Homo sapiens: one gene and its partners. The protein of the gene in region 1 interacts with the protein of each later gene in a biochemical or structural test. Each region holds a gene or a part of one and is shown in the gene's direction. Other genes may lie near its edges. The genes, in order: SH2D2A, SMAD2, KDR and ERBB2.

Region 1 (7,376 bases):
CTAGATCTGATACATTCAGTAAAGTCTTAGGATACAAAATCCGTGTACACAAGTCAGTAATGCTGCTGTACACCAACAACGACCAACCTAAGAATCAAATCAATAACTCAATCCCTTTTACAACAGCTGCAAAAACAAACAAACAAACAAACAAAAAACTTAGGAATATATTTAACCAAGAAGGTTAAAGATCTCTACCAGGAAAACTACAAGGAACTCTACAAAGAAAACTCTATAAGGAACTCTACAAAGAAAACACTGCTGAAAGAAATCAGAGATGACACAAACAAATGGAAACACAGTCCATCCTCATGGATGGTAAGAATCAATATTGTGAAAATGACCATACTGCCCAAAGCAATCTACAGATTCAATGCAATTTCCAACAAAATACCTTCATCATTCTTCACAGAACTATAAAAAACAATCCTAAAATTCACATGGAACCAAAAAAGAGCCCATATAGCCAAAGCAATACTATGCAAAAAGAACAAATCTGGAGGCATCACATTATCCAACTTCGAATTAAACTACAAGGCTATAGTTATCAAAACTGCATGGTACTGGTATAAAAATAGGCATGTAGACCAATGGAACAGAATAGAGAACCCAGAAATAAAGCCAAATACATACAGCCAATTGATCTTTGACAAAGCATACAAAAACATACATTGGGGGGGCTGGATGTGGTGGCTCACGCCTGTAATCTCAGCACTTTGGGAGGCCAAGGCAGGCAGATGGCTTGAGCCCAGGAGTTCGAGACCAGCCTGGGCAACATGGCAAAACCCCATCTCTACAAAAAGTACAAAAATTAGCCATGTGTGGTGGCGCATGCCTGTAGTCCCAACTACTTGGGAGACTAAGGTGAGAAGATCACTTGAGCCCGGGAGGTTGAGGCTGCAGTGAGCCGAGATCGTGCCACTGCATTACAGCCTTGGTGACAGAGTGAGACCCTGTTTCAAAAAATAAACAAATAAATAGATTGGGGAAGGACACCCTATTCAATAAATGGTGCTGAGTAAACTGGCAAGCCACATGTAGAAGAATGAAACTGGTTCCCCATCTCTCTCCTTATACAAAAATCAACTCAAGATGTATTAAAGACTTAAATCTCAGGGCTGAAACCATAAAAATTCTAGAAGATAACATCCAAAAAACTCTTCTGGACATTGGCTTAGGCAAAGAATTCATGACTAAGACCCCAAAAGCAAATGCAACAAGAACAAAAATAAATAGATGGGGAACTAATTAAACTAAAAAGCTTCTGCATAGCAAAAAAAAGTAATCAGCAGAGTAAACAGACAATCCACAGAGTGGGAGAAAACATTCTCAAGCTGTGCATCCAACAACACCCAGTGCCCAGAATCTCAAGGAACTCAAACAAATCAGGAAGAAAAAAACAAATAGGCCAGGCATGATGGCTCATGCCTGTAATCCCAGCAATTTGGGAGGTCAAAGCGGGTGGATCACCTGAGGTCAGGAGTTCCAGACCAGCCTGACCAACATGGAGAAACCCCATCTCTACTAAAAATACAAAATTAGCCAGGCATGGTGGCGCATGCCTGTAATCCCAGCTACTCAGGAAGCTGAGGCAGGAGAATCTGTTGAACCTGAGAGGCGGAGGTGCAGTGAGCCGAGATTATGCCATTGCACTCCAGCATGGGCAACAAGAGCGAAACTCCATCTAAAAAAATAATAAAAATAAAAATAAAAATAAAAAAATAATAATCCCATCAAAAAGTGAGCAAAGGACATGAATAGACATTTCTCAAAAGAAAGTATACAAACAGCCAACAAACATATGAAAAAATGCTCAACACCACAATCATCAGGGAAATGCAAATTAAAATCACAATGAGATACCACCTTATTTCTGCAAGAATGGCCATAATTAAAAAGTCAAAAAACAATAGATGTGGTGAGGTGCGGTGGCTTATGCCTGTGATCCCAGCACTTTGGGAGCCTGAGGCAGGGGGATCACCTGAGGTCAGGAGTTCGAGACCAGCCTGGCCAACATGGTGAAACCCCATTATTTTCTACTAAAAATACAAAAATTAGCCAGGCATGGTTGGTGCTCACCTGTAGTCCCAGCTACAAGGGAGGTTGAGGCAGGAGAATCACTTGAACCTGGGAGGCAGAGGTTGCAGTGAGCCGAGATAGCGCCATTGCACTCCAGCCTGGGTGACAGAGTGAGACTTCATCTCAAACACGGACACACACACACACACAGACACACAAATAGATGTTGGCATGGATGTGGTGAAAAGGGAACAGTTTTACATTGCTAGTGGGAATGTAAATTAGTAAAACCACTATGAAAAACAGTATGGAGATTCCTTAAAAAAACAAAAGTAGAAATACCATTATTTCCAGCAATCCCACTACTGGGTGTCTATTCAAAGGAAAAGAAGTCATTCTATTAAAAAGACACATGCACACGCATGTTTATAGCAGCACAGTTTGCAATTGCAAAGATATGAAACCAACCTAAGTGCCCATCAACCAATGAGTGGATAAAGAAAATGTGGTATATCTGCATCATGGAATACTACTCAGCCAAAAAAAGAACGAAATAATGTCTTTTGCAGTATCTTGGTTGGAGCTGGAGGCCATTATTCTAAGTGGAGTAACTCAGGAATGGAAAATCAAATATCGTATGTTCTCACTTATTAGTGGGAGCTAAGCTATGAGGACACAAAGGCATGAGAGTGATATAAGGGAATTTGGGGACTTGGGGGGAAGGTTGGGTGAGGAATAAAAGGTTACATATTGGGGACAGTGTACACTGCTTGGGTGCCAGGTGCATTAAAATCTCAGAAATCACCACTAGGTAACTTATCCATGTAGCCAAAACCCAACCGTACCCCAAAAATTATTAAAAATTTAGAGCATGTTTTTAAAAGCAAAAAAACAGTACACAATTTTTTAAAAAACAGTAAGTCTTGGCAAGTCCATCTCCCCCATCTGACATCTTGAAACAAAGTTTTTTTTTTCCTCTCTGGGTTCTCAGTACCAAGAACAGTGCATAGCACATAGTCATGAACCTTTGGCCTAAATCACAGTGAAATTAGTGAAAGGAAGTCTACCTTCTAGTCCCAGCACTCACACCAACTTCTCAGACACTGAAAGACCCTGGCCAAGGCACTCCTCTGAGCTTCTGGTAAATGGGGATAATGTTCCTGTCCCCTTCTTAGTTTGTGAAGATAAATTCAGAGAGAAATGGGATTGGTCCTTTGGTATGGTGGGAAGTCTAAGCACATTGAAAGTTTAAGACATTAACACTGGCCAGTGCAGTGGCTCACGCCTGTAATCCCAACACTTTGGGAGGCCGAGGTGGGTGGATCACTTGACGCCAGGAGTTCAAGACCAGCCTGGCCAACACGGTGAAACCCTGTCTCTACTAAAAATACAAAAATTAGCCAGGCATGGTGGTACAAGCCTGTAATCCCAGCTACTCGGGAGGCTGAGGCACAAGAATCCCTTGAACCTGGGAGGCGGAAGTTGCAGTGAGCTGAGATTGTGCCACTGCAGTCCAGCCTGGGTGACAGAGCTAGACTCTGTCTCAAAAAAAAAAAAAAAAAAGATGTCAACACTGATGTTATTAATGACAACTGCTGATAGTGTTGATACTAATGATGACCTGCTTAGCTGGAGGAATTCTCTTTCCTTCCTCCAATATTGCCTGGTTTTGCCCTAACTCAGCTCCATTATCTGCTGAATGATGGAAGCCAGGCCCCCTCCTCTCTAACCCCTTGTCTTATAGATTTCTTTATTATTATTACTATTATTATTATTATTTTAAAAATAGTGATGGGCTCTCACTATGTTACCCAGGGCTGATCATGAACTCCTGGGCTCAAGCGATTCTCTCGCCTGAGCCTCCCAAAGTACTGGGATTACAAGCATGAGCCACCATGCCCAGACTCATAGATTTCACATGTCCTCAAAAAGTCCTTCCAGAAGTCTGACCCACATCCTTCCTGTTGCAGCCCTGCCCCCTCCCTTCCTCATGTCTCCTCAAAGCATGATCCATAAGCACCTTGTGTGGCTTATCCTTGAGGTTGACATCCCCATTCCCACTGCTCAGAACAGGCCAAGAGGCAGAGTGGGAGATTTTCCAGAGAGAAAGAAATAGAAGCCAAGAGAGATGAGAGAGAGAGAGAGAGAGAGAGAGAGAAAGGGAAGTTCTAGTTTGGGGTGAGGGGGCAGAGAAAGAATCTGGAGGGATGAAGGTCAGGCAGCAGTAAGGGCTTCCTAACACCTAAACACAGAGTGACACAGATACCCCCCACCGCTATACCACCGCTATCTACAGCTGCGTGGCTTCCGGGGGTGGGACAATCGTCTTAAGGCTTTCCATGACGTGAGTCCTCGCCAGAACTAAGGCTGTGGGTAAGGCGACATTTCCTGCCCCCGGGGCCAGGGTGAGAGGAGAGATGATGAGTTGCTGAGTGTGCACACCTTTCCGGAACACATACACACACCCTGCTCTGGGATCCCTTGTGAGGCTGCCCTCATGGAGTTCCCCCTGGCCCAGATATGTCCCCAAGGTAAGTGTGAAGTTGAAGGATATGGGTGGGAGGGGGCACAAAGACCCCCATCCCCCTGCCCTCCCTCCTGGGCTTGAGCTCCCACTTCAGGGATGAGGGGCCCCACCCTAAGCCAGAGCTGGCAAAGCTGATTGGCAGGGTGACCACAACCCTGCCTGGGGCTCCATGCCCACTCATCCCTGAGGATAAAGGTGACAGGGTTTGTTGAGGGCTTCTCAGAGAGGAGAGAGGAGGGAGCAGGAGGATGAAGGGAGAAGGAGGCAGAAGATCCTGGACCAGAAGAAGGGCCTGCCCTGAAGTGATCTGCCTCCCTGACCATCCGAAGGCCAGCCTGACTCCCAGCCTCTCCTTCTAGGCACCTGGTGTCCCTCACAACCTCCTCTGGCAGCATTAGCCCCCCATGCCGCCTTGGCTACTTAACCTCATGCCTGAGAAACTCCCCTGCTGCCCTTCTGCGTTTTTCCTGTCGTTAAGACTGTCCCAGCCCTCCAGATCCCCTGAGCCTGGGAGGAGGGGTGGGAGGCAGAGACAGACATAGTTCCTCTCTGAGAAACCCCGGCAGCCCTCTTTGTGCTCACAGGGAGTCACGAAGCCCCCATCCCAACCTTCAGCACCTTCCAGATCACAGACATGACCCGCAGGAGCTGCCAGAACCTGGGCTACACTGCGGTGAGTGGAAACCTGGGGCGGCAGCGTGGTGCAGCTCCCTCATCTCTCCCACCCTCCCATGGGGAAGGACTTGCAGATGGACAAAGGCCACTCCAAGAGAAGGCAGGAATGATCCGGGTCTGCCAACGGGCTGGGGCACAGAGAGAGAGAACGAAAATGAGGAGTACCTCCTTCATGCGCCGAGTTGCCCACTCACTCCCTTACTGCTCCTAGGCCCTCTGGAAGCTCAGGCTGAGTCCGCAGATGACCAGGGTGCAGTGCATTGAGTCCCAGAAGCAGGCATCTGCACTCTGTGTCAGTGACCATTTGCCCAGTGCATTCCACATTCCCGTCTCAGTCCTTCTCTCCTGCCCAGTCAATAATTTTCCCTGCGAACTAGGTCAGTCCCTCATATTATGAAGTAAGCCCTCCCTCATTCTGGCCTCTAGGGTGACTTCCTGCATCATGTTTCTTCATCCTCCAGGCCAGGGAATGACTCTGTCCATCTGGAAGGCTGTGCTGCCTTTCCCGCCCCTCCTAGAGCACAGTGTGACAGCTCACTGCTGCTGGATTAAAAGCCCTCAGGACCCAGAGGGCAAAGGAAGGAGAGTCTCTGGAAGCCAGAACAGCTGGAGCTGAAGAAGGGATTTAAGTTAGACTTTAGGAAGGACTTTCTGGGCAATTGTACCCTAAAATAGACAGGAGAGGCTGGGTATGAGGAAAAGAAGGTGGCAGGTGGATCAAAGTCAGGAGAAGGCCCACTCATCATGCTGCTTCCCCCTCCTTGAACTCTTCCCTGATCCAGGCATCTCCCCAGGCCCCGGAGGCTGCCTCCAACACAGGGAATGCTGAGAGGGCAGAGGAGGTGCCTGGAGAAGGAAGCCTGTTCCTGCAGGCCGAGACCCGGGCTTGGTTCCAGAAGACCCAGGCCCACTGGCTCCTGCAGCACGGGGCAGCCCCTGCCTGGTTCCATGGCTTCATCACCCGGAGGTGAGTCATGGAGGAGGAAATTGGCCCAGACAGGGGCAGGGCAAGTCCTGGGTCTGGGTCCTGCCACCTGCCAGGAATAGATGAAGGCTCCCACTTCTACCAGTCTGGAGTAGATGGAGGCGCCCACTCCAGGCTCCCACTCCCAGAGTTTTCCTAGCCTTTCACTGAGGCATCTCTCCAGGGGAGATCATTGGAGAGGCTCCAGTCCAGCCCTCTGTGTACCTCAGCTTCCCCTCTCTAGGCCCCATTATCCTCCTGTCCCTAAGGCCTCGAATGCTGGTATTTTCCACCTCTCTCTCCCTCCAGGCTTACTCCATCTTTATCTCCCAGCCCTCTCTTCTTCCACCCTTGCAGAATCTCCCTCCTCCATTTCTCAGCCTCATTTCTCCCTAACTCTTTGTTCACCTCCTCAGTTCAGCTTTGACTTCTGAAATCTGGAAGTCCAACTACTTTCCCATCCCTGTAGCTGCAGTAGCAGCCCCTGCAGGCTGCCCTTTCAGGATGAGGCCAGGGGAGGATGCGGGGGTCTCCTGAATGGGACCCCTGGCCCCTGTCCACGCCTAATCCCTGCAGCGGGAGAGCAGCGCCCACGTGCTCTCTCTCCCCATCTCCGCCCTAGCCTTTCTCTAGCCGCTCCAGCATGCTTGCTTGGGGGTAGGGGTTCCTCGTGAGAGCCGGGGAGACAGAGGCGAGGCTGGAAGTGTCAGAGCAGGGTTCGGCCCCCTCTCTCCGTCACCCACAGGGAGGCAGAGAGGCTGCTGGAGCCCAAGCCTCAGGGGTGCTACTTGGTGCGGTTCAGCGAGAGCGCGGTGACCTTCGTGCTGACTTACAGGTGAGGGGCGAGGCCCCGCGCCGGGCGACACAAGGCGGGGCTCGGGAGGGGCGGGGCTTGGGTCTGATCCCGTGAGGAGCCGGGCTCTTAGCTCATTCCCCGGGCTGCTGAAGGTGGGGATCACGCCTCTCGCTGGTGACCCTGGCCGAGGAGCGGGAGATAGTCTGATCCCTAACGGCGCCCTCCAGGAGCCGGACTTGCTGCCGCCACTTCCTGCTGGCCCAGCTCAGGGACGGGCGCCACGTGGTGCTGGGCGAGGACAGCGCCCACGCGCGGCTGCAGGACCTGCTGCTGCACTACACCGCGCACCCGCTCAGCCCCTACGGGGAGACGCTCACCGAGCCCCTCGCCCGACA
Region 2 (7,049 bases), on another chromosome or scaffold:
TTCACCCCCTCCTTACTAAATCACCCCTCCATTTGCTGCAGTTGCCCTTGCGTGCTGTACTCAGACTTGGAGGAAGTGATGTCTTATTCAAGGCCAGTTTTTGTACTAGTGGTTAAATAAATGGTTTCCAAATTGGAGTCAGAAGGAGAGCTTCTAAAATGTAGGTTCCCTGGCCTCAATTGTGAGATTCTGCTTTAGCAGGTCTGGAATTGGAGCACTGGGATCTGCATTTTCAGAAAACCCAAAATGATTATCAGCCAGGACTTAAACCTCTGCTTTAGACCACATTCCCTGTGGGCTTTCAGATTTTCTATCAATGTTCTTCCCTCTTCCCAGCTCCCACACATTAAAACTCAGATCATGCAGAAAAGAAGTTACAGTTCCTTCATTTCACATCAATTTCTCATGCATCCCATCTGGTTTTGGGAAGGTGTGGGACGAGGTGGATGGCCTTAAACTTGCCAATCAAAGATAACGTTCTCTTTCGATTCAAATAGCCTATCTCAGGCTTAAAACCATCTCTTTGGATAAATGCTCAGCTTTTCAAAGGTTCTTCCTAGCTTCTTCCTCATGATGGCATCTAGTGGGTGAGAACAGTCATCTCCAGGTGACACAGGAAAGAGTTTCTCTAATGTATGTGCTGAGGTCCTTGACGGTCCTGCTGCTGGTGCTCATCCTGCCATCTTTGCTGGATGTCACTGAGTCTACTGGGTAATGTAAGTGGGTCCCTGGCTTTTGTTCACTGCTGTCATGCCCTGCTCCTGACCACAACTCTGTCATTGCCTTTGGTCTCAAGGTCTCTACCTTAATAGCTTCCATGTCCCAACTATGGGACTGTTAATCTGCTGGGCTTTGGAGTGGGTGGGAAGGGATGATGTTGGAACTTTGGGATGTACTGAACATCTTGCTCAAGCTTTGGGAAGCCAACATTTTCTCAGACTGACTAGACACCTCCTTCCACCAATGCTGAGCTAGTGCTCCTGTGCCATACTGGGTAAGCCTCTAAGTCATGAGTAGGACTTTTTTGAGTGGCTTGCAGTCTTCCCCAGGCTATGCCAGGAAAGTAGTTGACTAACCCTGCTGCTCCAAGACTCGCATACCCATCCTGAAGTTTCCGTTTATTTCCCAACAGGGCAATTGCAATCTCAATCAATCTCTCCCTGCCCTGGGAGTCATTCCACTCCTGCCTAATGAAGAGACTCTTCTCACATCGTATTCTCAGTTTCTCTTATCCATGGTTAGGAGTAAAACTCATGTTCAGTTGTCCAAGCTTTGCTTTTAGTATGTGAATGGAGCTCTTAGCATGTAGAACTCCCTTCTCATTCTCAGTAAAGTCTGACTTTGAAGACTACTTATCATCTTCCTAGAGATGCCAAAGAATAATCAAGATAATAAAGGCAGGCTCTGAGATTCACAGCTGAGTAGCAACTGTGCTGTTACTCTAGTACACACCCTCTCCTTTCCTGTGACTGTCAGGCTTCAGGGCTTACCTTTATTGGAAAGACAGCAGGGGGGCATATATGAAGAAAATGGAATCTTTAATATTGTCAAAGTCTTGACCCAATAGAGACATTCTTGCCCCAGACTCTCTTGCTTCAGTGCCTTTGCCTGTTCTGGTCCTAAGTACCTTGAATATCCTTCTCTTGATGCCCTGATATAAAACTCTTTATTCCTCAAAGCCAAGTTCAGGTTATCACCTCCACCACAGACTTTTCTTTCCCTCCCCAAACTTCATTGCCTCTTCTCATCACTCCCTTTGTAATTTGTTTATACTGGTAAGAGAGCATTCATCATAATTAGGCCTATCTATGCCTACCTTTCTTGTTAAATTATGAGCTTTGTTCTGCCTTGGATATCTCTCTGGCTTGGATATCTCTCTGGCCTTTGCTCTGCACTTCCAAATGTATCCATTATTCAAGACCCAGGTTTCCAGCCTGATCAACATAGCAAGATCCCATCTCTCCAAAAAAAAAAAAAAAAAAAAATTGTGGGGCCGGGTACAGTGGCTCATGCCTGTAATCCCAGCACTTTGGGAGGCCGAGGCAGGTGGATCATGAGGTCACGAGTTTGAGACCAGTCTGGCCAACATAGTGAAACCCCATCTGTACTAAAAATGCAGAAAATTAGCCGGGTGTGGTGGTGTGTGCCTGTAATCCCAGCTACTCGGGAGGCTGAGGCAGGAGAATCGCATGAACCCGGGAGGCAGAGGTTGCAGTGAGCCGAGATTGCGCCACTGCACTCCAGCCTGGGTGACATTGCAAGACTCCATCTCAAAAAAAAAAAAAAAAAAAATTAGCTGGGCATGGTGGCAGGCACCTGTAGTCCCAGCTACTTGAGAGGCTGAGGTGGGAGGATTGCTTGAGCCCAGGAAGTCGAGGCTTCATGAGCCATGTTTGTGCTACTGCACTCTAGCCTGGATGACAAAGTGAGATCCTTTTCTAAAAATAAGGACCCAGTTTATTTTATTTAGTTATTTAGTTATTTTTGAGACCAAGTTTCATCACTCAGGCTGGAGTGCAATGGCACAGTCTTGACTCACTGCAACCTCTGCCTCCTGGATTCAAGCAATTCTTCTGCCTCAGCCTCTTGAGTAGCTGGGATTGCAGGTGCCCGCCACCACACCTGGCTAATTTTTGTATTTTTGGTAGAGACAGGGTTTCACTATGTTGGCCAGGCTGGTCTCAAACTCCTGACCTCAGGTGATCCACCTGCCTTGGTCTCCCAAACTGCTGGGATTACAGGTGTGAGTCACCCTGCCTGGCCAGAACCCAGTTTAAATTCCATCCTCTCTGCAGAGTCTTCCTTAACCACCCCTATTGAAAGTTACCCCTGCTTCCTACAAGAAGTGGTACTTGGATGTTCATGAGATACCTGTGCAAGGCTCCTGTGGGGGTCCTGGGGAGACAGTGACATGGACACTCATGAAAGGAACCTTGGAATAGCGAGTGTGTGTGCTATAAAATGTGCTTTAGATTTGATTACCACCACTTAAGTTATGAGCTCTGATATGGTTTGGGTCTCCATCCCCACCCAAATCTCATCTTGAATTGTAATCCCTACATGTTGAGGGAAGGAAGTAATTGTATTATGGGGGTGGTTCTCCCATGCTGTTCTCATGATAGTGAATTCTCACAGGATCTGATGGTTTTATAAATGGTAGTTTTTCCTGTACTTTCACACACTCACACTCTCTTCTGCCACCTTGTGAAGAAGGTGCCTGCTTCCCCTTCTGCCATAATTGTAAGTTTCCTGAGGCCTCCCCAGCTGTATTAGTCTGATCTCACGCGGCTAATAAAGAGATACCGGAGACTGGGTAATTTATAAAAGAGGTTTAATTGACTCACAGTTTTACATGGCTGGGGAGGCCTCACAATTATGGCAGAAGGTGAAGGGGGAGCAAGACACATCTTACATGGCATCAGGCGAGAGAGCTTGTGTAGGGGAACTCCCCTTTATAAAACCATCAGATCTCGTGAGACTTATTCACTATTACAAGAGCAGCACGGGAAAGACCCACCCCCATGATTCAGTTACCTCTCACTGGGTCCCTCACATAATATGGGGAATTATGGGAGCTCCAATTCAAGATGAGATTTGGGTGGGGACACAGCCAAACTATATCACCAGCCATGTGGAACTGTTGAGTCAATTAAACCTCTTTCCTTTATAAATTACCCAGTCTCAGGTATTTCTTTATAGCAGTGTGAGAACAGACTAATACAAGCACCTTGAGGTCAGAGGCTAAAATCACTTTTTCCCAAACATTTCCTTTTTATATATGCTACATCTTTGTGTCTGCTTCAACATTTCCAGCAGTGCTTTATATATGGTAGGCATGCAATAAATGCTTCTTGATCGACTGACAGGTGCTCAGAAGATCTAGGTTGGTTGATTCTCTTGTGATGCCATCTTTTCCTGAGAGCTCATTAATTTTTAAGTTGTTTTCCTTGAAATGCATGGTATGTTTCCTCCACCCTGCTCTTTGCCTTTCATAGGGTTCCATTTTGATCAGCTGCTCTCATTGTCTGTTTTGTGATCAAAGGTTCTGATGAACTTTGGAATATGTGTATGTTTGGAGTGAGGATGGGGTCTGGAGGAGATGCATGGTTGAGGACCAATTCACCCAACCCAGCTTACAGAAGTAAAGCGGCCCCTTAGGAGCACTGAAGCATTGCTGTGGATTTCAGAATTACCTTATTTCTTTTTCTTTTTTTTTTTTTTTTTTTTGAGACGAGGTCTCGCTCTGTCGCCCAGGCTGGAGTGCAGTGGCACAATCTCAGCTCACTGCAAGCTCCGCCTCCTGGGTTCACACCATTCTCCTCCCTCAGCCTCCCCAGCAGCTGGGACTATAGGTGCACGCCGCCACGCCTGGCTAATTTTTGTATTTTTAGTGGAGACAGGGTTTCACCGTGTTAGCCAGGATGGTCTCAATCTCCTGACCTTGTGATCCACCCGCCTCAGCCTCCCAAAGTGCTGGGATTACAGGCGTGAGCCACCGTGCCCAGCCAGCTTCTTTCAAATCAGAGTAGGCCTTCCAGTGTGGCAGGCCATAAGATCTGAAGTTTTCACCCTGTTCCTGGAAGCCAAGTGGACAGCAACTAATTTTTACTTTCTTTATTGCACATTTGGGGCTTGGGGGATAGAGTCAGATGTGTGTCAGTTGAAACTGTAGCTACTGCATTCCACTCCTTGGGGGATCGTAGTGCTCATGCCAACAGAAAACTTCGAGGCTAATAATTACTGTCTTCAGAGTACAAGACAGGCACGGAAGTTGTTTTGGCATAAGAAAACCACGATTTGCATCCCACAGTCTAAGGAAGACGATGCTGAATTCAGAAGATGGTGCAAAAGTGTGACAGTTCAGCTGTGGCGGCTGTTGCTGATGCATGGGACTATTTTATTTACATTTCCTTTCTTCTTTTTTAACAGAGACAGGATCTTGCTGTGTTGCCCAGCCTGGTCTTAAACTCCTGGGCCCAAGTGATCCTCCCACCTCAGCCTCCCAACGTGTTGGGATTACAGGCATGAGCCACCATGCCTGGGCTTTATTTATATTTCCAAGTCAAATGTTAGTTGGTCAATCAGTCTTTTTAAGCACCAATTTTGTGCCTAGCCTTGTGGAAACTGTAGGAAAAAGATACTTTTTATTTGGGAGGACCTTGATTTGCTGTCACAGGTGCCACTAATGCCAATTATAAGGCAGTGTGGAATCAGGTGATTGAAAGCCCAGTCTGTAGCATAAACTGCTGCAGGGTTCCAGTGGGGGCAATTAAGGTGGGCAGGGAGGGTGGATAGCATTTGACTTTGACAGCATAACCTGAGCAGAGGCACAGTGGGGATGGTGAGTGTGCAGTGGGAGGAGGGAGAGAGGTAAGTGGTAGGGAAGAGGTGGGAAGGGGGCAAGGAGAAGGCTCAGGAGGTTTGGGGACAGGGAAATGACTTGGTTGGCGACCTCTTACTTTCTTCTCGTGTGTGCAATTTGGAATTCACTTGGTTCTTAGTATTTCTGGGTCAGATGACTTCTTTGCAGTATGAGAAACCATTTCCCAGGCTGGCTACCTGGGCTGTGGTATCTTCCAGTGCTCCTCTGTGATTGTACTCAGATCAGCTCGTCTAGGCAGGCAGGATGGCAGAAGCCCTCTGACTTCATGTCTGAAAGAGTATGTGTTTCAACTCTGTAATTACAGCATTTAACAGACGATATCAGCCCTCTTTGGGATGGCTTTTGGCAAATGGGCTAGAAGTCTATTGTGCATTTAAATGATACTGCATCTTCTCTTTAAAAGGTTTCTCAGTGAGTCCACCCCACTCTGTATCCAAGTATGTCTCAGGCCATGAGGCAAAAGGAAATGAGTAGTTCTTTTTGGTTGGAGAATTAAAAAGAAATCTCCACCCAAGTAACAGGTACATAGTGGGAAAAAATAACATCTGCCTGAAAGCTTCATCTTCAGGCAAAGAGAGGGTCAGGGGGCGGGAGCTTAGTAATGGGGAAACCTCAGAAGATTTAAAGAGAATTACAGACAGACAAGGCTGAACATTGGCTGTCATCCAACAAAGCTCTTATAAGATGGGAATCACTGCCCGGTTCTTGAGCTCCGACCTGGAGGGAAGAGGAGTCTGGAAGACTTGGCACAGGCCTGAGTGCTTCATTGTCTTTCTGGTTCCAAGTCCTCCTCAGCTCACTAGGAAGGAGGTGGGGTGGGGGCAGGTAGGCCACTCTGCATAAGTGCACACATCTACACTGGCTAGTCTACTTCACAATTCCCCCACAGGTTATCCTTATCTCTACCTGGTTCCAGTTCCAGATTGGAGGGATATAGAATACCATCCCCACCCCTCACCTTGCTTGCTCTGGCCTGGAAAACTGTCATTCCTTTACCACCAGCTGGCATCTGCCATATGCTTCAAGGAACTGAATAAAGAGGAAGGGGAAAGAAGAAACTAGAGAAACTGGAATGCTTCCTATCTGACCCCCAAGTACAGGGACTGCCTCTTTCCGTAACGGCACAGAACGTCTCCATCCCTTTGACCTCCACCTCCCCAGAGATGCCCGAGGAGGACAGCCTTGTTTCTGTGATCTGTTGTTGAGAACTGCTGCTGAGAATTCTTCCTTCAGCACCGCCTTAGGCACCATTGGTTTTTCACTAGGTCCGCTGTAGAAAACAGCCAGGAATTACTTAGTTGACTACCACCTGAGGTGCTGTTTGGTGTTGGTAATAAAGAATAAAGGTGGAAATGAAGCAACGAGACTGCTTTTCTTTGTGGTTCATAAATTAATTCTGATAACAGTTTTTAAAAGAGAAGTCAAATATTTTGAGCAGAGCCAAGCTCACTGACATACCTAGGTGGTCTTAGATGTAGCCAATGCGCCAGGTACCACAGGACGCCTAAATTTGTATCAGTGTATACCATCACTAGTTATGAATAAGAATGCCTTCTTGCCACATATCCTCATTAACTCAGTGTATTATCAAACTTATTTAACTCTTTCAGGCCAGGCATTGTGGCCCATGCCTGTAATCCTAGCACTTTGGGAGGCCAAGGCTGGT
Region 3 (2,664 bases), on another chromosome or scaffold:
TTAAAGTTGCTCAAGAGCTTTATTACAACCATACACATGCCCCGTAATTCCCAAATTGCCACAATAGGAAAAGCACAAGTGAAATTTAAGAACATCCCAATTTCCTTGAATATCATGCAAGTGGCCCTTTGGCGCCTGTCACTGTATACAAATTTGTCAATCTGCGAGGCCATAAACATGTTCCATCAGTTGGGGCCTTTGCATAACTCGAGAGAACTGCCTTTCATCTCATTTGAGGCTTGAAAGACTTGGACCTGAGTAAGAGGACTTATCTGCAACTACTAATTCATGCGAGTACCTGAAAATAGACCTTGTCCCTGTAAACCTGCTATGCTGATTAACAACTGGGAGAGATACGGGGCTGCGGTCTCCAGGGAGATGGCAGCCATATGGAGTTGGGAATGGGGTGAGGGTAAAAAGCAAAAGAATTGTCTTCTCTCTGCCAACTCCTTTGTTTGCCATTTCTTCTGCAGTGGAATGGTGCCCAGCAAAAGCAGGGAGTCTGTGGCATCTGAAGGCTCAAACCAGACAAGCGGCTACCAGTCCGGATATCACTCCGATGACACAGACACCACCGTGTACTCCAGTGAGGAAGCAGAACTTTTAAAGCTGATAGAGATTGGAGTGCAAACCGGTAGCACAGCCCAGATTCTCCAGCCTGACTCGGGGACCACACTGAGCTCTCCTCCTGTTTAAAAGGAAGCATCCACACCCCCAACTCCTGGACATCACATGAGAGGTGCTGCTCAGATTTTCAAGTGTTGTTCTTTCCACCAGCAGGAAGTAGCCGCATTTGATTTTCATTTCGACAACAGAAAAAGGACCTCGGACTGCAGGGAGCCAGTCTTCTAGGCATATCCTGGAAGAGGCTTGTGACCCAAGAATGTGTCTGTGTCTTCTCCCAGTGTTGACCTGATCCTCTTTTTCATTCATTTAAAAAGCATTTATCATGCCCCCTGCTGCGGGTCTCACCATGGGTTTAGAACAAAGACGTTCAAGAAATGGCCCCATCCTCAAAGAAGTAGCAGTACCTGGGGAGCTGACACTTCTGTAAAACTAGAAGATAAACCAGGCAATGTAAGTGTTCGAGGTGTTGAAGATGGGAAGGATTTGCAGGGCTGAGTCTATCCAAGAGGCTTTGTTTAGGACGTGGGTCCCAAGCCAAGCCTTAAGTGTGGAATTCGGATTGATAGAAAGGAAGACTAACGTTACCTTGCTTTGGAGAGTACTGGAGCCTGCAAATGCATTGTGTTTGCTCTGGTGGAGGTGGGCATGGGGTCTGTTCTGAAATGTAAAGGGTTCAGACGGGGTTTCTGGTTTTAGAAGGTTGCGTGTTCTTCGAGTTGGGCTAAAGTAGAGTTCGTTGTGCTGTTTCTGACTCCTAATGAGAGTTCCTTCCAGACCGTTACGTGTCTCCTGGCCAAGCCCCAGGAAGGAAATGATGCAGCTCTGGCTCCTTGTCTCCCAGGCTGATCCTTTATTCAGAATACCACAAAGAAAGGACATTCAGCTCAAGGCTCCCTGCCGTGTTGAAGAGTTCTGACTGCACAAACCAGCTTCTGGTTTCTTCTGGAATGAATACCCTCATATCTGTCCTGATGTGATATGTCTGAGACTGAATGCGGGAGGTTCAATGTGAAGCTGTGTGTGGTGTCAAAGTTTCAGGAAGGATTTTACCCTTTTGTTCTTCCCCCTGTCCCCAACCCACTCTCACCCCGCAACCCATCAGTATTTTAGTTATTTGGCCTCTACTCCAGTAAACCTGATTGGGTTTGTTCACTCTCTGAATGATTATTAGCCAGACTTCAAAATTATTTTATAGCCCAAATTATAACATCTATTGTATTATTTAGACTTTTAACATATAGAGCTATTTCTACTGATTTTTGCCCTTGTTCTGTCCTTTTTTTCAAAAAAGAAAATGTGTTTTTTGTTTGGTACCATAGTGTGAAATGCTGGGAACAATGACTATAAGACATGCTATGGCACATATATTTATAGTCTGTTTATGTAGAAACAAATGTAATATATTAAAGCCTTATATATAATGAACTTTGTACTATTCACATTTTGTATCAGTATTATGTAGCATAACAAAGGTCATAATGCTTTCAGCAATTGATGTCATTTTATTAAAGAACATTGAAAAACTTGAAGGAATCCCTTTGCAAGGTTGCATTACTGTACCCATCATTTCTAAAATGGAAGAGGGGGTGGCTGGGCACAGTGGCCGACACCTAAAAACCCAGCACTTTGGGGGGCCAAGGTGGGAGGATCGCTTGAGCCCAGGAGTTCAAGACCAGTCTGGCCAACATGGTCAGATTCCATCTCAAAGAAAAAAGGTAAAAATAAAATAAAATGGAGAAGAAGGAATCAGACATAATTTCCATGTGGTTGTTTTACATTTTTACTGGTTTTCTTACTCTTCTTATAAGGGATATTTTCATAAACTGATTATATATTTTACAAACCAATAAATGTATTTGTAGTACAAAGTATGAGGGTATAATATCACCACAACTATTTTGAGGATAAGTATGTCTGGTTTAAAGTTTAACTGCTTCTTCCCTCTTCTTCTTCATTACAAAGAATTCACACACACACACACACACACACACACACACACACACACGCCACGCATACACCCCCCAACACCCACACCTC
Region 4 (7,049 bases), on another chromosome or scaffold:
CACTCAGCCCTCATCCTGCCCTTTGCCCAACAGTGACGCGCACTGTCTGTGCCGGTGGCTGTGCCCGCTGCAAGGGGCCACTGCCCACTGACTGCTGCCATGAGCAGTGTGCTGCCGGCTGCACGGGCCCCAAGCACTCTGACTGCCTGGTATGTGCCTCTGCTTTGTGCCCAATGTGCTCTACCCCCCAGGATGCAAGGGGTGGGCACCCTGCCTGGTACTGCCCTATTGCCCCTGGCACACCAGGGCAAAACAGCACAGTGAAAGCCAGCCACCTGTCCCCCCAGGCCTGCCTCCACTTCAACCACAGTGGCATCTGTGAGCTGCACTGCCCAGCCCTGGTCACCTACAACACAGACACGTTTGAGTCCATGCCCAATCCCGAGGGCCGGTATACATTCGGCGCCAGCTGTGTGACTGCCTGTCCCTGTGAGTGCCAGGGAGAAACACAGTTTTCTCATTTTGGTGGGGAGGTTTGTTTCTGTAAATGGGAGCATATGGGGAGCACTGTCTGCATCTTGCTTTGAGAGCTGGTCATGACAGTTCCTGCCGAGCTGCCTTGTTCTTTCAACAGCTGTGGAGCAGGTGGCAGTAAGGAGAGGCAGCTAAGAGCCCAGACTTGGGAGCCAGACTGCCTGGGTTTGAAACCCAGCTCTATCAATTAGTAGGCACGTGACCCTCTTGCTGTGCCTCAGTTTCCTCATCAGTAAAATGGGGGCAAGAATAGTCCCAACTGCATAAGATGGTTATAACATTTGAAAGAGTTAATATTTGTAAAGCTCTTAGAACGGTGCCTGGTATGTACTAAGTGCTCCTAAATGTTAGCTTTTATTCTATAGCCTGGTGAGGTCAGTTTTACCTTTCGTTTTGTTTTTGAGACCGAATTTAGTTAGCTCTATCGCAGTGGCGCGATCTCGGCTCACTGCAACCTCCGCCTCCCAGGTTCGTGCTATTCTCGTGTCTCAGCCTCCTGAGTAGCTGGGATTACAGGCGCCCACCACCATGCCTCGCTAAATTTTGTATTTTTAGTAGAGACAGGGTTTCACCACGTTGGCCAGACTGGTCTCGAACTCCTGACTTCAGGCGATCCACCTGCCTCGGCCTCTGAAAGTGCTGGGATTACAGGCGTGAGCCACTGCACCCGGACTTTTTTTTTTTTGGCAGAGTCTCGCTCCATTGCCCAGGCTGGAGTGCAGTGGTGCAATTTTGGCTCACTGCAACCTCTGCCTTCCGCATTCAAGCAATTCTTGTGCCTCAGACTCTTGAGTAGGTGGAACTACAGGCATGCACCACCATGGCTGGGTAATTTTTGTATTTTTAGTAGAGACGGAGTTTCACTATGTTGGCCAAGCTGGTCTCGAACTCCTGACCTCAAGTGATCCACCCGCCTTGGTCTCCCAAAGTGCTGGGATTACAGGCATGAGCCATCGTGCCTGGCCTAGCTCAGTTTTATTTAACAGATCACCTATTTACTGATGGGCGTTTATGGACTGGGCTCAGACCTGGGGAACCTCTTTCCTCCTCTCACAGGAACAGGAGTGGGCCTTCAGATCCTGGCTGACTGTGTTAGGGAGAGGACAAAATGTAGAGCCAGACCATTTGGGTTCAAATCCTCGCTCCTCCACTCACTAGCACAATGACCTTGAATAATTTACAGAACTCTCTGCTTTGGTCTCCCTTTTTGCAAAATGGGAATCTCACAGTGCTGATCCCGTCTGGTTGTTGTGAGGGGTAAATGGATGTCAGGTGCTGATGCGTGGTAGGGCATTTAAGTATTGGTTGATATTATTCTTCTTGTGCCTGGGCACGGTAATGCTGCTCATGGTGGTGCACGAAGGGCCAGGGTATGTGGCTACATGTTCCTGATCTCCTTAGACAACTACCTTTCTACGGACGTGGGATCCTGCACCCTCGTCTGCCCCCTGCACAACCAAGAGGTGACAGCAGAGGATGGAACACAGCGGTGTGAGAAGTGCAGCAAGCCCTGTGCCCGAGGTACCCACTCACTGCCCCCGAGGCCAGCTGCAGTTCCTGTCCCTCTGCGCATGCAGCCTGGCCCAGCCCACCCTGTCCTATCCTTCCTCAGACCCTCTTGGGACCTAGTCTCTGCCTTCTACTCTCTACCCCTGGCCCCCCTCAGCCCTACAAGTGTCCCTATATCCCCTGTCAGTGTGGGGAGGGGCCCGGACCCTGATGCTCATGTGGCTGTTGACCTGTCCCGGTATGAAGGCTGAGACGGCCCCTTCCCCACCCACCCCCACCTCCTCAGTGTGCTATGGTCTGGGCATGGAGCACTTGCGAGAGGTGAGGGCAGTTACCAGTGCCAATATCCAGGAGTTTGCTGGCTGCAAGAAGATCTTTGGGAGCCTGGCATTTCTGCCGGAGAGCTTTGATGGGTAAGAGTGGGCACGATGACCTGAGACAGTGTCAGGGCAGACAGAGTCCTGAGGATCCAGATGTGGCAGCATCTCTTGGGGATGGCAGGAGACAGAAGTGGGGGGATCAAGAATGCAAAGAAAGCAGATGGGAGACCAGAGGAGCAGGGCCTTTGGTGGGTGGGGGTGATTATTTTTGTAAATGACATGCTATCCGTGAACAAGGACTTGTATGGAGGTCAGACCATCTAGATAAAGTAAAATTCCCTTTGAGTTCATAGCAGCTTTATTCAAAATATCCCCAAATTGGAAATAACTCAAATGTGCATCACTAGGTGAAGGAATAAACAAGTGGCAGTGTATCCATTTGGTGAAGTTCTACTTAGCAACCAAAGGAAATGAACTACCGATACAACATAAATGAATCTCAGAAACATTACATTGAGCAAAAGAAGCCAGAGACAAGATTCCATACTGTCTGATCCCCTTTATGTGAGGCTCTGAACCGAAAAAACCACTCTGTGGTGGGAGAGATCAGAACGGTGGTTGCCCCAGGGTGGGGGGCTTCAAAAGGGAGGCACACAAGGACATTTCTGGGGTAATAGAAATGCTCTGTATAGTGATTGGGGTAGTGGATACATGAGCGAATCCATTTGTCAAAACTCATCAAACTGTGTGATAAGAGTCTGTGCATTTTATTTATTTCATTTTATTTTTTGAGATAGAGTCTCACTCTGTCAGCAGGCTGGAGTGCAGTGGTACGATCTTGGCTCACTGCAACCTCTGCCTCCTGGATTCAAGCAATTCTCCTGCCTCAGTCTCCTGAGTAGCTGGGACTACAGGTGTGTGCCACCATGCCCAGCTAATTTTTGTATTTTTAATAGAGATGGGGTTTCACCATGTTGGCAAGGATGGTCTCGATCTCTTGACGTCGTGATCCGCCCACCTCAGCCTCCCAAAGTGCTGGGATTACAGGCATGAGCCACCACACCCGGTGCATTTTATTGTATATAAGTTATACTTCAATAAGAAATGAATTGGGGCCAGGCACGGTGGCTCACGCCTGTAATCCCAGCACTTTGGGAGGCCGAGGCAGGCAGATCACTTGAGGTCAGGAGTTCAAGACCAGCCTGGCCAACATGGTGAAACCCCATCTCTACTAAAAAATATAAAAAATTAGCCAGGCTTCCTGGCATGCGCCTATCATCCCAGCTACTTGGGAGGCTGAGGCAGGAGAATTGCATGAACTCGGGAGGTGGAGGTTGTAGTGAGCTGAGATTTCGCTATTGCACTCCAGCCTGGGCGACAGAGTGAGACCCTGTCTCAAAAAGAAAAAAAAAAAAAAGGGTCAGGCGCCGTGGTGCACACCTGTAATCCCAGCACTTTGGGAGGCTGAAGCAGGAAGATTGCTTGAGCCCAGGAATTCAAGAACAGCGTGGGCAACATAGTGAGATCCCATCTCTACAAAAAAACACAAAAAATTAGCCGGGCATGGTGGTACGCACCTGTAGTCTCAGCTACTAGGGAGACTGAGGTGGGAGAATCACCTGAGCCTGGGAGGTGGAGGTTGCAGTGGGTTGAAATCATGTCACTGTACTCCAGCCTGGGTGACAGAATGAGACCCTGTCTCAAAAAAAAAAAAAAAAAAAAAATTCCCTTTCACACTTCCTTTACCTCCACTCCCCTTTCCAGAGGGGGCCATGGTTAACAGTGTGTGTGTTCACCTAGACCGTTTATGCATCTGTAGACACACACACAGTGAAGTGTGGTTTTCGTCGTTTTGGTGGGGAGGTTGGTTTCTGTAAATGGGAACATATAGGGAGCACTGTCTGCACCTTGCTTTGAGAGCCGGTCATGACAGTTCCCATTGAACTGCCTTGTTCTTTCAATAGCTGCAGAGCAGGTGGCGGCAAGGAGAGGCAGCTAAGAGCCCAGACTTGGGAGCCAGACTGCCTGGGTTTGAAACCCGGCTCTACCACTTACTAGGCATGTGACCCTTGTGCTGTGCCTCAGTTTCTTCATCTGTAAAGTGGGGGCAAGAACAGTCCCAACTTCATAAGATGGTTATACCACCATGCCTGGCCAGATGATTATAAAGTTTGAATGAGTTAATATTTGTAAAGCTCTTAGAACAGTGCCTGGCAGATACTAGGTGCTCCTAAATGTTGGTTTTTATTATGTGGCTGGGTGGCTCGGGGTTTTATTTAACAGCTCCCCTATTTACTAATAGACATTTAGATCATGTTCCATTTTCACTCTTACAAACAGTTCCACTTTGTGTGTGGCTCTGGGAACATGGGCCAGTGTCTCCCTAGGCCACATTCCTAGAAATAAGATTTCTTTTCTTTTTTTTTTTTTTTTGAGACAGAGTCTCGCTTTATCGCCAGGCTGGTGTGCAGTAGTGTGATCTCGGCTCACTGCAACCTCTGCCTCCCGGGTTCAAGTGATTCTCCTGCCTCAGCCTCTCGAGTAACTGGGACTATAGGCGCGCGGCACCACACCCAGCTAATTTTTGTATTTGTAGTAGAGATGGGGTTTCACCATGTTGGCCAGGATGGTCTCCATCTCTTGACTTCGTGATCCGCCCGCCTCGGCCTCCCAAAGTGCTGGGATTACAGGCGTGAGCCACTGAGCCCAGGCAGAAATAAGATTTCTAGATCAAAGGATATAAATACTGTTTTGATAGATGTTGCCGAACTAAGGCCTGGGCTTTGAAGCCCAGGATGGGAACAGCTGGGCTCGATGGGCAAAGGGTTTGAGTGAAGGCATTCATGGTGGGGAGTGGCTGGCATGGCCAGTGCTGGGAGTGATGTCCACCCTGTTCCTGGCCCTGCTGACTCCTCTCCTGACCCCTCCAGGGACCCAGCCTCCAACACTGCCCCGCTCCAGCCAGAGCAGCTCCAAGTGTTTGAGACTCTGGAAGAGATCACAGGTGGGCTCTGTCTCTGCATCCTGTTCTGCAGGGGCTGGGAGTCCTTGTCCTGTCCCCACTCCTTTAATCTCACCCTCTGCCTGCAGGTTACCTATACATCTCAGCATGGCCGGACAGCCTGCCTGACCTCAGCGTCTTCCAGAACCTGCAAGTAATCCGGGGACGAATTCTGCACAAGTGAGCACTGAGAAAGAGGGGGCCTGATGGGGAGGAGTCCCAGGGAGGAGTCCCTGTGGGAAGCTTTGGGCCTGAGGGAGTACTCCTGTAGCAGTAACCTTTCCATGAAAGTCTGCAGAGTGTGCTGGGGATGGAGGAAGATGAGAATAGCCTTTGCTGACCGGGAAGGGGTCCGTGGTAAGGTGCCCACCTTTCTCCCATAGTGGCGCCTACTCGCTGACCCTGCAAGGGCTGGGCATCAGCTGGCTGGGGCTGCGCTCACTGAGGGAACTGGGCAGTGGACTGGCCCTCATCCACCATAACACCCACCTCTGCTTCGTGCACACGGTGCCCTGGGACCAGCTCTTTCGGAACCCGCACCAAGCTCTGCTCCACACTGCCAACCGGCCAGAGGACGAGTGTGGTAAGACAGGGAGCCCAGTGTGCGCACTCCCCATCTGCCAGCACACAGCAGTGCCCAGGGGGCCCTGGCAGCAGCGTTCTTGGACTTGTGCAGACTGCCCGTCTCTGTGCACCCTTCTTGACTCAGCACAGCTCTGGCTGGCTTGGCCTCTTGGCATGGCTTCTCTAGCTGGGTCCTACCTGCCTTGGCATCCTTCCCTCCCCCTCTGTTTCTGAAATCTCAGAACTCTTCCTCTCCCTACATCGGCCCCACCTGTCCCCACCCCTCCAGCCCACAGCCATGCCCACAGCCAGTTCCCTGGTTCACTTGGACCTGGGGCCTCCCCTAAAAGTCCCCTGCGGTCCCTTCCTCCTCACTGCAGTGGGCGAGGGCCTGGCCTGCCACCAGCTGTGCGCCCGAGGGCACTGCTGGGGTCCAGGGCCCACCCAGTGTGTCAACTGCAGCCAGTTCCTTCGGGGCCAGGAGTGCGTGGAGGAATGCCGAGTACTGCAGGGGTATGAGGGGCGGAGGAGAGGGTGGCTGGAGGGGTGCATGGGGCTCCTCTCAGACCCCCTCACCACTGTCCCTTCTCTCAGGCTCCCCAGGGAGTATGTGAATGCCAGGCACTGTTTGCCGTGCCACCCTGAGTGTCAGCCCCAGAATGGCTCAGTGACCTGTTTTGGACCGGTGAGCTGCTGGCGGGCTCAGAGCTGGGTGGAGGGGGGCAGCGAGGGGGATTGCCAGGGACTTGGCAGGATGGCGAGATGCAGTAGGGTGTGCTATCTGGTAAAATATCCCTGGAGAGGGCTCAGCGCTCAGACCTGAACAGCAACAGAGTGGCAGAAAAGGGGCCTGGGGGACACTGGGGCCCTTCAGACTATGAAAAGGTTCTAAGGAGGTCTGTGTTGGTGGCTGTGACTGTGGCTGTGCTAGGGTGGTGAGCCCTGTGGGCTCAGGCGTCAGACTACCTGGATTCAGACCCAGCTCCTGCTTCCAACCTTGGTTTTTTATTCCTAAAATGGGTATTGTAATAATACCTACCTTGCTGGGGTGTGGCAAGAATGAAATTAAACAGGGCTTGGCACAGTGAAGCACGGGAAAGGCTTTCTACAGAGCAGTGACTGTTGTTACTCGCTGTTACACCTTAGGTAATGCGTTTTCCTCTCTGGGTGCCTCCCATTTT

What was found.
Region 2: the proteins of SH2D2A (region 1) and SMAD2 form a complex in vitro, tested with the Homo sapiens proteins (one study listed by BioGRID).
Region 3: the proteins of SH2D2A (region 1) and KDR interact in a test that uses a peptide from one of them, tested with the Homo sapiens proteins (one study listed by BioGRID).
Region 4: the proteins of SH2D2A (region 1) and ERBB2 form a complex in vitro, tested with the Homo sapiens proteins (2 studies listed by BioGRID and IntAct, with this or other methods).

The regions. Positions count from the first base shown.
Region 1 is NC_000001.11:156,813,849-156,821,224, reverse strand, and holds the start of SH2D2A (SH2 domain-containing protein 2A), read left to right. Parts: upstream 1-4,376; 5' UTR 4,377-4,516; coding exon 4,517-4,550; intron 4,551-4,767; exon of another isoform or gene 4,768-5,112; coding exon of another isoform or gene 5,113-5,130; coding exon 5,131-5,219; intron 5,220-5,386; coding exon of another isoform or gene 5,387-5,395; exon of another isoform or gene 5,396-5,475; intron 5,476-6,003; coding exon 6,004-6,188; intron 6,189-6,900; coding exon of another isoform or gene 6,901-6,930; coding exon 6,931-7,020; intron 7,021-7,208; coding exon 7,209-7,376. UniProt on the Homo sapiens protein: Could be a T-cell-specific adapter protein involved in the control of T-cell activation. May play a role in the CD4-p56-LCK-dependent signal transduction pathway. Could also play an important role in normal and pathological angiogenesis.
Region 2 is NC_000018.10:47,808,648-47,815,696, reverse strand, and holds the end of SMAD2 (mothers against decapentaplegic homolog 2), read left to right. Parts: 3' UTR 1-6,740; downstream 6,741-7,049. UniProt on the Homo sapiens protein: Receptor-regulated SMAD (R-SMAD) that is an intracellular signal transducer and transcriptional modulator activated by TGF-beta (transforming growth factor) and activin type 1 receptor kinases.
Region 3 is NC_000004.12:55,077,973-55,080,636, reverse strand, and holds the end of KDR (vascular endothelial growth factor receptor 2 precursor), read left to right. Parts: intron 1-473; coding exon 474-696; 3' UTR 697-2,156; downstream 2,157-2,664. UniProt on the Homo sapiens protein: Tyrosine-protein kinase that acts as a cell-surface receptor for VEGFA, VEGFC and VEGFD. Plays an essential role in the regulation of angiogenesis, vascular development, vascular permeability, and embryonic hematopoiesis.
Region 4 is NC_000017.11:39,710,053-39,717,101, forward strand, and holds part of ERBB2 (receptor tyrosine-protein kinase erbB-2 isoform a precursor), read left to right. Parts: intron 1-33; coding exon 34-149; intron 150-287; coding exon 288-429; intron 430-1,875; coding exon 1,876-1,995; intron 1,996-2,269; coding exon 2,270-2,396; intron 2,397-3,100; coding exon of another isoform or gene 3,101-3,217; intron 3,218-5,233; coding exon 5,234-5,307; intron 5,308-5,393; coding exon 5,394-5,484; intron 5,485-5,666; coding exon of another isoform or gene 5,667-5,687; coding exon 5,688-5,887; intron 5,888-6,218; coding exon of another isoform or gene 6,219-6,248; coding exon 6,249-6,381; intron 6,382-6,462; coding exon 6,463-6,553; intron 6,554-7,014; coding exon of another isoform or gene 7,015-7,049. UniProt on the Homo sapiens protein: Protein tyrosine kinase that is part of several cell surface receptor complexes, but that apparently needs a coreceptor for ligand binding. Essential component of a neuregulin-receptor complex, although neuregulins do not interact with it alone.